Linked DNA regions of Homo sapiens: region 1 is linked to region 2. The links come from fine-mapping of genetic effects on gene expression. A gene starts in region 2. The other region holds a variant in brackets. All regions are shown on one strand. Distances are from middle to middle.

Region 1 (4,357 bases), 22 kb after region 2:
ACACTCTGTAATTTTAGAAGGAAGACAGCCTCCTCCAGGAGCATCTTACCCGACCTCTTGTCACCGTACCAAATGGCGATCCGAGCAAAAAGACTGGAAGAGAGCCGAGCGGCGGCGCTCCGAGAGCTCCAGGAGAAGCAGGCTCTGATGGAGCAGCAGAGACGGTGAGTCCACACAGGGTGGGGGTCCGCACAGCCCGCCCAGTGCACCCGGAACTGGGACTGGGCTGTGATTTTATGGCAGGCCTCGTGGAAGTGTTTAGTTAGTTCTCCCCTCACTGATGCTGATCCAGGATCCGTCTCTTCCTCACCTGGAAGCCGAGCTGCACGTGCCCCTTGTGGTCTGTAGCGCCACGCACGGGCTCGCTTGTTTGCAGCCCTGAGGCCTCCGTGTGGGGCAGGCGCAGGTGCAGCGCTCCGTGTGGGGCAGGCGCTGAGGCCTCCGTGTGGGGCAGGCGCTGAGGCCTCCGTGTGGGGCAGGCGCAGGTGCAGCGCTCCGTGTGGGGCAGATGCTGAGGCCTCCGTGTGGGGCAGGCGCTGAGGCCTCCGTGTGGGGCAGGCGCTGAGGCCTCCGTGTGGGGCAGGCGCTGAGGCCTCCGTGTGGGGCAGGCGCTGAGGCCTCCGTGTGGGGCAGGTGCAGCGCTCGTGGTCTGCAGGGCGTTGCGTGCATGGGCTCCCTTGTTTGTAGCCCCGAGGCCTCCGGGTGGGGCAGGCGCAGGTGCAGCGCTCCGTGTGGGGCAGGCGCTGAGGCCTCCGTGTGGGGCAGGTGCAGCGCTCGTGGTCTGCAGGGCGTTGCGTGCATGGGCTCCCTTGTTTGTAGCCCCGAGGCCTCCGTGTGGGGCAGGCGCAGGTGCAGCGCTCCGTGTGGGGCAGGCGCTGAGGCCTCCGTGTGGGGCAGGCGCTGAGGCCTCCGTGTGGGGCAGGCGCAGGTGCAGCGCTCCGTGTGGGGCAGATGCTGAGGCCTCCGTGTGGGGCAGGCGCTGAGGCCTCCGTGTGGGGCAGGCGCTGAGGCCTCCGTGTGGGGCAGGCGCAGGTGCAGCGCTCCGTGTGGGGCAGGCGCTGAGGCCTCCGTGTGGGGCAGGCGCTGAGGCCTCCATGTGGGGCAGGTGCAGCGCTCGTGGTCTGCAGGGCGTTGCGTGCATGGGCTCCCTTGTTTGCAGCCCCGAGGCCTCCCTGTGGGACAGGCCGGTTGCAGTGCTCGCGGTCGCCCCCTTGTGTCCGTCTTTGCCCTGGCTTCCTCACGACACCTGCCTGCTTTCTTGTTCTTTTCCCTCATTTCTTGTTCTTCCTCAGTCCTTTCCTCCTCATTTTCCCTAGAGTATTCCAGGCCCTGACACGGTCATCAGGGAGGTTCATTCTTGTGTTGCTGTGACTGCCGCCAGTGCCACCACCTTGCGAGGTGTGTTGGCCGATGGACTCGGTGTCCTCAGTGTCTTCTCTGTCCTCCAGCTCCACTGACCACCTGGCTTCACCCCTCCCTGGGCCCCAGGAGTCCGGCTGGCATGGACCACAGCCACAGCACCCCCGTGCCCCTCACTTGGTGGTTGGCTTTGGCCAGCGGGGGCCCCCAGCAGGAGGTCGAGGAGGAAGGGAGAGCGAGGGCCTCGTCTTTACTTTCCCGGCTTCTTTGTGAGCTGCCTGGAGCTGGCCGAGTCCAGCCTCTCCCTCCTTCTGGGTTCCGACAATCTCTCCTTCCCTGGTCTGTCCTGTGGGCGGCTGCAGCCCGGCCCTGACTGGCACAGGGCTCTTGCACCGCCCCTGTGGCTCACCTGCTCCCTCCCCAACATGAATAAACCCTCCTGAAGCCACCCCGTTGTGTGTGTGCTGTTTTCTCTCGGGACCATGTGATAGGGGCTGTGTCCAGCACACAGATTCTGTGATTGTCCACAGCTGTCACCCAATGTCCAGAGAGACATTGTAGTTGGTTGTCTTTTTCATTAAAAAGATGAATGAGGTGAAGTCCTCAGAACTGGTCCCCTGTCCCAGGCTGTCATACTGACGGGCAAGGATGAGGCTGACTGACCGCTCTAGGGCTGTCCTAGGACATGGGAGTGTGGTCCGGGCTGCACCAGAAAGCCCATCGCTGTGGGACCAGGTCTTGCTGGCCACGGGCCACAGCTGCTGGGGCCCAGGGAGCACCGGGAAGGCTTTCCTTTGGTGCCCATCAGTCGCCCCACACTGTCCCTCGGGGTAGCTCTACAGAGCCGGGCCCGTCACTCACTGCGAGGTGAGCCCCCCAGGACCGGCCCCGCCTGTCAAGCATGCCAGCTGCCCTCCCCTCACTGTGTGCCTCAGCAGGCATCTCCCTTCCCTTCCCTGCTGCAGGTGGGTCCCACTCCTGCCTCGGCTCTGCCAGTTTCAAGGTACCGTTTTCTGAAGTGGGTGTCCAGACACCTGCCCCCTTGACTC[C/A]TCAGGTATCACCTGCCCTGCCAGGAGGCTGCCTGTGGGAGTCCCACTCCCTCTTGGCCATGGCTGTGATGGAGGTGATTGTGATGAGACCTTCCGCAGGCACAGCCCCTGCCCCAGGCTCTCTGGGCACCACCAGCTGCAGGGGGCAGAAAGGGCACTCTTACCCCCAGACAACAGGCTCGGGCCTCGTCCCACACCTTCATGGAAGAGAAGTTCTTGGATACAAAGAGCAAGTGAACTCTTTCTTCTTTATTTTCCTGCCTGGAGCCCAGAGCCAGTGTCCTGCAGTCTCCTAGTGAGCAGCTCGGCAGGCCTATTCTGAGGGCCCAGACCCGGCACAGCCCCCTTCACATCACCCTGTGGACAGCGTCACCCCTTTGCTTCCCAAGGTGTGACCAGAAGACAGTGACACTAAGTGGAGGCCCTCGTCCAGGAGCGCAGCGGGGCCAGCACCACACATGGTGCTAAGTGGGGACACGGGGGGCACCACCCTGGCTGGGGCTGGGGGCTGGGGGCTGGGACACACCCAGGCAGGCGTCAGGACACAGCCTCACCTGAGGCAGCTGCTGAGACCACCTGTGCCCTGAGGTGGCACTGGGAGAGGACGCAGCCAGGCTCTGATCCCAGGCAGCACTGACTCGGGATGGAGCCCTCAGCAGGAAGGTGGTCAGAGGTGGGCCGTGGGCCGGGTAGAGCCCAGGAGGGCTGAGCCGCTGTGACCGCAAGGAAGGAGAGCAGAGGTCGGGTGGAGGCGTCGAGGAAAACCCGGCCTGGGGCCCAGGCGTCCAGGATGATGATGGGAGAAACAAGAGGAGGCCGGATCTGGGGGCAGGATGGAGAGGGGGTACCAACCACAGGAGTCCTGCAGGCTGGAGAGCTGGCCTTCCGGGGGTGGAGCCCTGGGCCTGAGCAAGGGCTCTTGGGGACCTCATTCCACCCCAGCCACACGCGAGGAGCCCCGCCCAGCCGCAGATGTGGGCGTTACTCGGGACGTTCGCAGCCCTGGGCGGCGAGCTGTGAGGAGGGAGCATGTGACTCTGGCTGCAGACTGCGGAGGCCCGAAGACGCCTGTTCTTGTCTTGTTTTGTTTTGTTTTTTGAGACAGTCTTGCTCCGTCACCCAGGCTGGAGTGCAGTGGCTCAATCTTGGCTCACTGCAACCTCTGCCTCCTGGGTTCAAGCAATTCTCCTGCCTCAGCCTCCCGAGTAGCTGGAACTAGAGGCGCCCACCACTACACCCGGCTAATTTTTTGTATTTTTAGTAGAGATGGGGTTTCACTGCGTTAGCCAGGATGGTCTCGATCTCCTGACCTCGTGATCCGCCCGCCTTGGCCAGATGCCTGTTTTTAAAAGTGAAATTCAAGTGTCTGAAGGGAGGGACTTAGAGACAGGCATTCAGATCTTCCATAGACCTTATGTCGACAAGTGCCCGCAGCCAGGCACCCCCAACCCGTCGTGCAGCGCCTGTGGTGGCAGCCCCAGCTGGTGCCCTTACCTGAAAGGGGTCCTGATGCCTTTTCCTCGGTCACTGGGTCGGGTTGGCCCCCAGCATCAGTCACTGCTGGCAGCACCGACACACAGAGCCTCGGGATAGAACCCGGCATTCCCGGCTCTGCCCAGATGTGCCGGGAGGAAGAGGCTGTGGTTCAGACTCCCACCCGGAGGGCATGCACGCCCCCAGCCTGTGCCCCCTGGAGACAGGTGCACCGCAAGGCTGTAGAATGACAGAGGAATCCTGTAGCCTTGGCTCGAAGCTGCCTGTAACTTATGACATTAACCTTCCCTTTCTCCAGAGAGAAAAGGGCACTGCAGGAGTGGAGAGAGCGAGCCCAGAGGATGAGGAAGAGGAAGGAAGAGCTCAGCAAACTCCTGCCTCCGCGGAGGAGCATGGTACGGCACGCGCGGGCGGTGACCGGGCACTAGTCCAGTCCCGGGGGTGGGTGGGTGCTC
Region 2 (4,379 bases):
GCCAAACCAACTTATACTCAGAAATACCACAGCGAAATTTCAGAACAAAGACATGAAAAGAGAAGATAGATTTCCTTCATGGAAGTAGCAATGCCACGGGCAGCAAACTTCTCGGCAGGGTAGCAGCAGTCGCTGCCCGGAGGAAGGTCCTAAAATCAAGACAGGAAATGACTCAACAAGGAACGCGGCACCAGCTCCACAGCCACTCAATAATCAGATCAACACGAACACTTCATTCGTTCCTACGTTGGGAGGCTCACCCAAGAATACTTGCCAAAAGGCTACCAATGGATACAATCTGGCTGGGCAAAAACTGAGCACAGTAAAGGGCAAAACATGCTCGTACATACAATTAACTACTGACTACAAAAATTAATGTAGCATGAAAAATGTGAAACAAAAACCTGAGGCAACAATAACAAGCAAGAGGGAATACGCTCAAATGGTTAGTAAATGTTTTATTTGTGAAAAGAGATACTGGAATGCTGAAACTTGTTAGAAATAGCATCGTGCTGAAATCTTCCATCCCCTTCGCCACTCACGGCAACACCCATGTCACTCCTCATTCTCTCCTTGCTCTGCCCGGGTGGCTGGCCTCCCCACGCTCCTGAGAAGGTACTGGTTGTGCTTTCAGCTTCCTGATTGGTAGATAGTTGGGTATGTACGAAAACTTTTTTTTTGAGACAGGGTCTCGCTGTCACCGAAGCTGACATTAAGTGGCACAATCATAACTCACTGCAGCCTCAAAATCCTAGGTTCAAGCGATCCTCTTGCCTCACCCTCCCACACAGCTGGAACTACAGGTGTGTGCCACCACACCCAGCATTTTTTTTTTTTTTTTTTTTTAATTTTTGTAGAGACTGGGTTGCCCAGGCTGGTCTCCAACTCCTGGCCTCAAGCGATCTTCCCACCCTGGCCTCCCAAAGTGCTAGGGTTACAGGCGTGAGCCATCGTGTCCGGCCTAAAAAACATTTCTTACTGTGATCTCTTCACAAAAATAAAACGTAAATCCCCTCAAAGTGGATAGTCGTTTCTCCACATAATTATGTCGTTTCCTTTAAAAAGTGGAATCAGGCCGGGCACGGTGGCTCATGCCTGTAATCCCAGCACTTTGGGAGGCCGAGGGGGGCGGATCATGAGGTCAGGAGATCGAGACCAGCCTGGCCAACATGATGAAACCCCGTCTCTACTAAAAATACAAAAATTAGCTGGACGTGGTGGCGCGCGCCTGTAGTCCCAGCTACTGGGGAGGCTGAGGCAGGAGAATTGCTTGAACCTGGGAGGCGGAGGTCGCAGTGGGCCGAGATCGCGCTACTGCACTCCAGCCTGGGAGACAAAGCAAGACTCCACCTCAAAAAAAAAAAAAAAAAAAAAAAAGTGAAATCATGGCAGACTCCAGCTAAACTGTCCGGGTTTCCAGAGTGTTTCTGGGTGGGACAGAGGGTGCTACTTTTCATTATCAGTTGGATCCTGGAATGAAGGTGCACGGGACTCCAGGGTTCCACAGGACCACGCGAGCACCTCCCCTCCCGCCCGGTGTCATTTCATCTTCTTCCAAATTCTCAAAACCCTTCCTCAGGACACTCACTGCGTTTCCTCGCCCCCCTCACTCCTCCGTCCAGAGGCAGCCTTACTTCTCCAAAGAGGACGCTCTGAGTCTGCGTTCCCCTGGCAGCAAGTCCTGAGGCAAGATTTGGGGACAAGCAGCTCCTGTGGGAAGTGGCTCCAGGAAGCCCCAGGAGAGACGCGGGGAGTGAGCCCAGCGGGAAGGACAGGCAGCGAGGACCGCTCCAAAGGTGGTGCCTCAGCAGCAATTCTTTTCTGCTCGGCTGTCCTCGAGCAGCCCCGCCCGCCCCGGGCCCTCCGGCTCCCCAGACGGCACTTAGCATCCCGCTCTCTTCCTTCCCCTCTGTGCCAGGCCGGTCGCCCCTCCAGACCCTCGCGGTCTCTACTTGCCCGTCGACCACCACCCCTTCAAGGCCGCGGGCGCGGAAAAACGGATGCTACCGTTGGCCGCGTGCGTGCGCAGGCGCACCACCCCCTGCCACCCCCGCGCAGGCGCACCACAACCCCCCCACCGCAAGCGCAACCCCCCGCCCCAGCGCAGGCGCACCACACCCCGCCCCCTCCCGGGCAGGCGCACCACACCCGACCCCCTGCCGCGCAGGGGCACCCACACCCCGCCCCCGCACGCAGGCACAAACCCCCACAACACGCACACCCCCGCGCGCAGGCGCACCACACCCCTCGCGCAGGCGCATCACAGACACACTCGCGCTCAGCGTGGCGCCTGCGGGATTCCGTACCGGCGTCTCCATGGCGACCGCGTTGGCTGGGTGGCCTCCATTGTCGGGCTGCTGCTCTCAGCGGCGGGGCTCGCCAGCGCTTCAGTGGGCGGGGACGCGGCAGGTGAGACGGGGCGGGTACGGCCAGCTCGCTGAGCCCTCGAGGCGGGCGGCGGCAGGAAGGTGGTGCCTCGGCCCGTCGTGCCCTGTCGCCTAGCTCCAGCCGCGATGCTGACCGCAAAGGCTGCCCTTCTGAGGCCTGGAATGTGAGGCCCAGAGCGTCGGACCCAACTCAGCCTCGCCCGGATGGGGAAATCGAGGCAGGGAGCGGGGGTGGGCGTGCGTGGGGATCCCTTGAAGGCAGCCTCGGAAACCCCACGGAGCCTGCGCTGCCTGGGCCCTGTGTGAGTCCAGGCTGTTGTTTCACTTCTGGTTTTAAGATACTTTCCCTGTTCTGAGGTTTGAAGCCTCCCCTCCTCTGTTTTAAGTTCCGTGATTCGGAGAAAACAAGTGAACTGACCGTGAAAAAGCCCGCGGGCTTCCATGGAATGCAGGCTGCCTGGGGTTGAACCCTGCTGGGTCCCGGTGTCGCCTCTACCCCCCAATTAACTGCGCCCCTGGAACAGTTCCCTAACTGATCTGCGCCTCATATGCCAATCATTGGGCTGTTGAGTGACTTGAATTAGGTGAACTGATGCATTCCAACGTTGATTCTTATTGCCGAATAAATTGTTTGGAAATTGCAAGTGGAAGTGTGCCTCGCTGAATGAGATTTTGGTGAACAATACTTCTGAGTAAAAGTGTTGCTGGACAACGAAAATTCGAGATTAATTTAACAGGTTTTTCCCCGGTGCTTAACTGGGTGTAAGCCAGACTTAGTTCTGGTCACTGGGTCAAAATGGTAAACAAAAGACAGGCTTCCTGGCCTCAAGAAACTAAAAACATAGTTCAAATGGCACAGAACCACACCAGAGGTAAGAAACAGTGCAAATTTCCACCCGCCCCTAGTCATTTCATGGAAGCGTTGCAGTTGATTTACAGGCTTTGAAATGTTCCGATCTGTTTACATCCCTAAAATGATCATTACTATTGTGCGCCTTTGCGTTTTCCAGGAGTTAAATCTTGGAACTCCATTGTACAAAGTGAGAGCAGAGAATTTTAATCTGAACCTCTTTGTATTCCTTTTTTTTTTTTTTACATGTTTAAAAGTCAAATTTTTGCTACTGCTTAGGAAAAATGATAGCTTTTAAAGCAAGTTACATTACAGTAGATCTGCCACACAGCTATTCTGTTTTGCCTCGGTATAATTAGTTGCTTCTACGTTTCCCTTTCCCGTGTCTCCAGGTGACTCCAGACCAAGGAGGATGAGCTGCTGTCCCTGGAAGAGAACGGATGGAGGGAAGCAGCTCCTACGAAGTTCCCTCTGTGGCTGCTGCTGATCTGGAGGAGGGTGCTGGTCAGACTAGGAGCTTGCCTGCCACCCCCTCCAAAGATGTTCACAAGGGTGTTGGAGGCATCATCTTTTCCTCCTCACCGATTTTAGACTTGAGTGAAAGTGGTCTGTGCCGTTTGGAGGAGGTCTTTAGAATCCCCAGCCTTCAAGTAAGTGGGGCTGCTCCTCAGGCTGTGTGCCCACAGGTCCCCTATAGACAGAAATGGGAATGTACCCCTGGGCTTTATTTGTAGGCTTCTTTCTCTTTGGAATTGATGAATTCTAAAATTAAATAGAGGAAAGGTTAACTCATAGTTTCATACGCCAATCACAACAAAATGGGAAATTCATGATGGGGACCAACCAATGGAAATAGTACATCTATTTAGATGAAGGTGTCTGTTCTCTTCCTTGCAGTTCATCTCTCAAAACCTGTGGTAGAAACTACTGCCAAACACGCTTGGTCTCTTAATTAAAACACAAAACCTTAAAGAAAATCAGGCAACATGAGCAGTTAAAAACTTTGTTCTCACCCATGATTTTGCTCATGTTACACACTGGTTTTACTTTGTGCCCGGCCCTTCTCCGGGTCAGTCCGCAGTAGATGCTGTCTTGTCCATGTGATTTCTAGAGAAAGCTTCTGTGAGGGCACAGGTTTGATG

Direction of the effects. Alleles are on the strand shown, and positions count from the first base shown. SD is a standard deviation of normalised expression in the study named.
With allele A in place of C in region 1, the expression in whole blood of the gene that starts at base 2,346 in region 2 is higher (large effect, 0.88 SD a copy in Lepik 2017).

What was found. PIP is the estimated chance that this variant, and not a neighbour inherited with it, causes the effect. A credible set is the group of variants that fine-mapping cannot tell apart.
Region 1: its variant is the best candidate, but not a certain one, in a credible set for the expression of LRRC27 in whole blood (Lepik 2017, PIP 0.58).

The regions. Positions count from the first base shown.
Region 1 is chr10:132,351,590-132,355,946 of GRCh38, forward strand. LRRC27 (leucine rich repeat containing 27) reads left to right here. Exons shown (of 11, transcript NM_030626.3): 7 at 18-164; 8 at 4,201-4,297. Among named protein-coding and RNA genes, the nearest start is that of LRRC27, 22 kb to the left of the region's middle. RefSeq lists an enhancer at 1,094-2,056. The variant C/A (reference allele first, on the strand shown) is at 2,409.
Region 2 is chr10:132,329,848-132,334,226 of GRCh38, forward strand. LRRC27 (leucine rich repeat containing 27) reads left to right here and starts at 2,346. Exons shown (of 11, transcript NM_030626.3): 1 at 2,346-2,409; 2 at 3,630-3,887. The coding sequence starts at 3,678. It also overlaps a transcript of STK32C not described here. RefSeq lists an enhancer at 1,629-2,163 and a silencer at 2,048-2,167.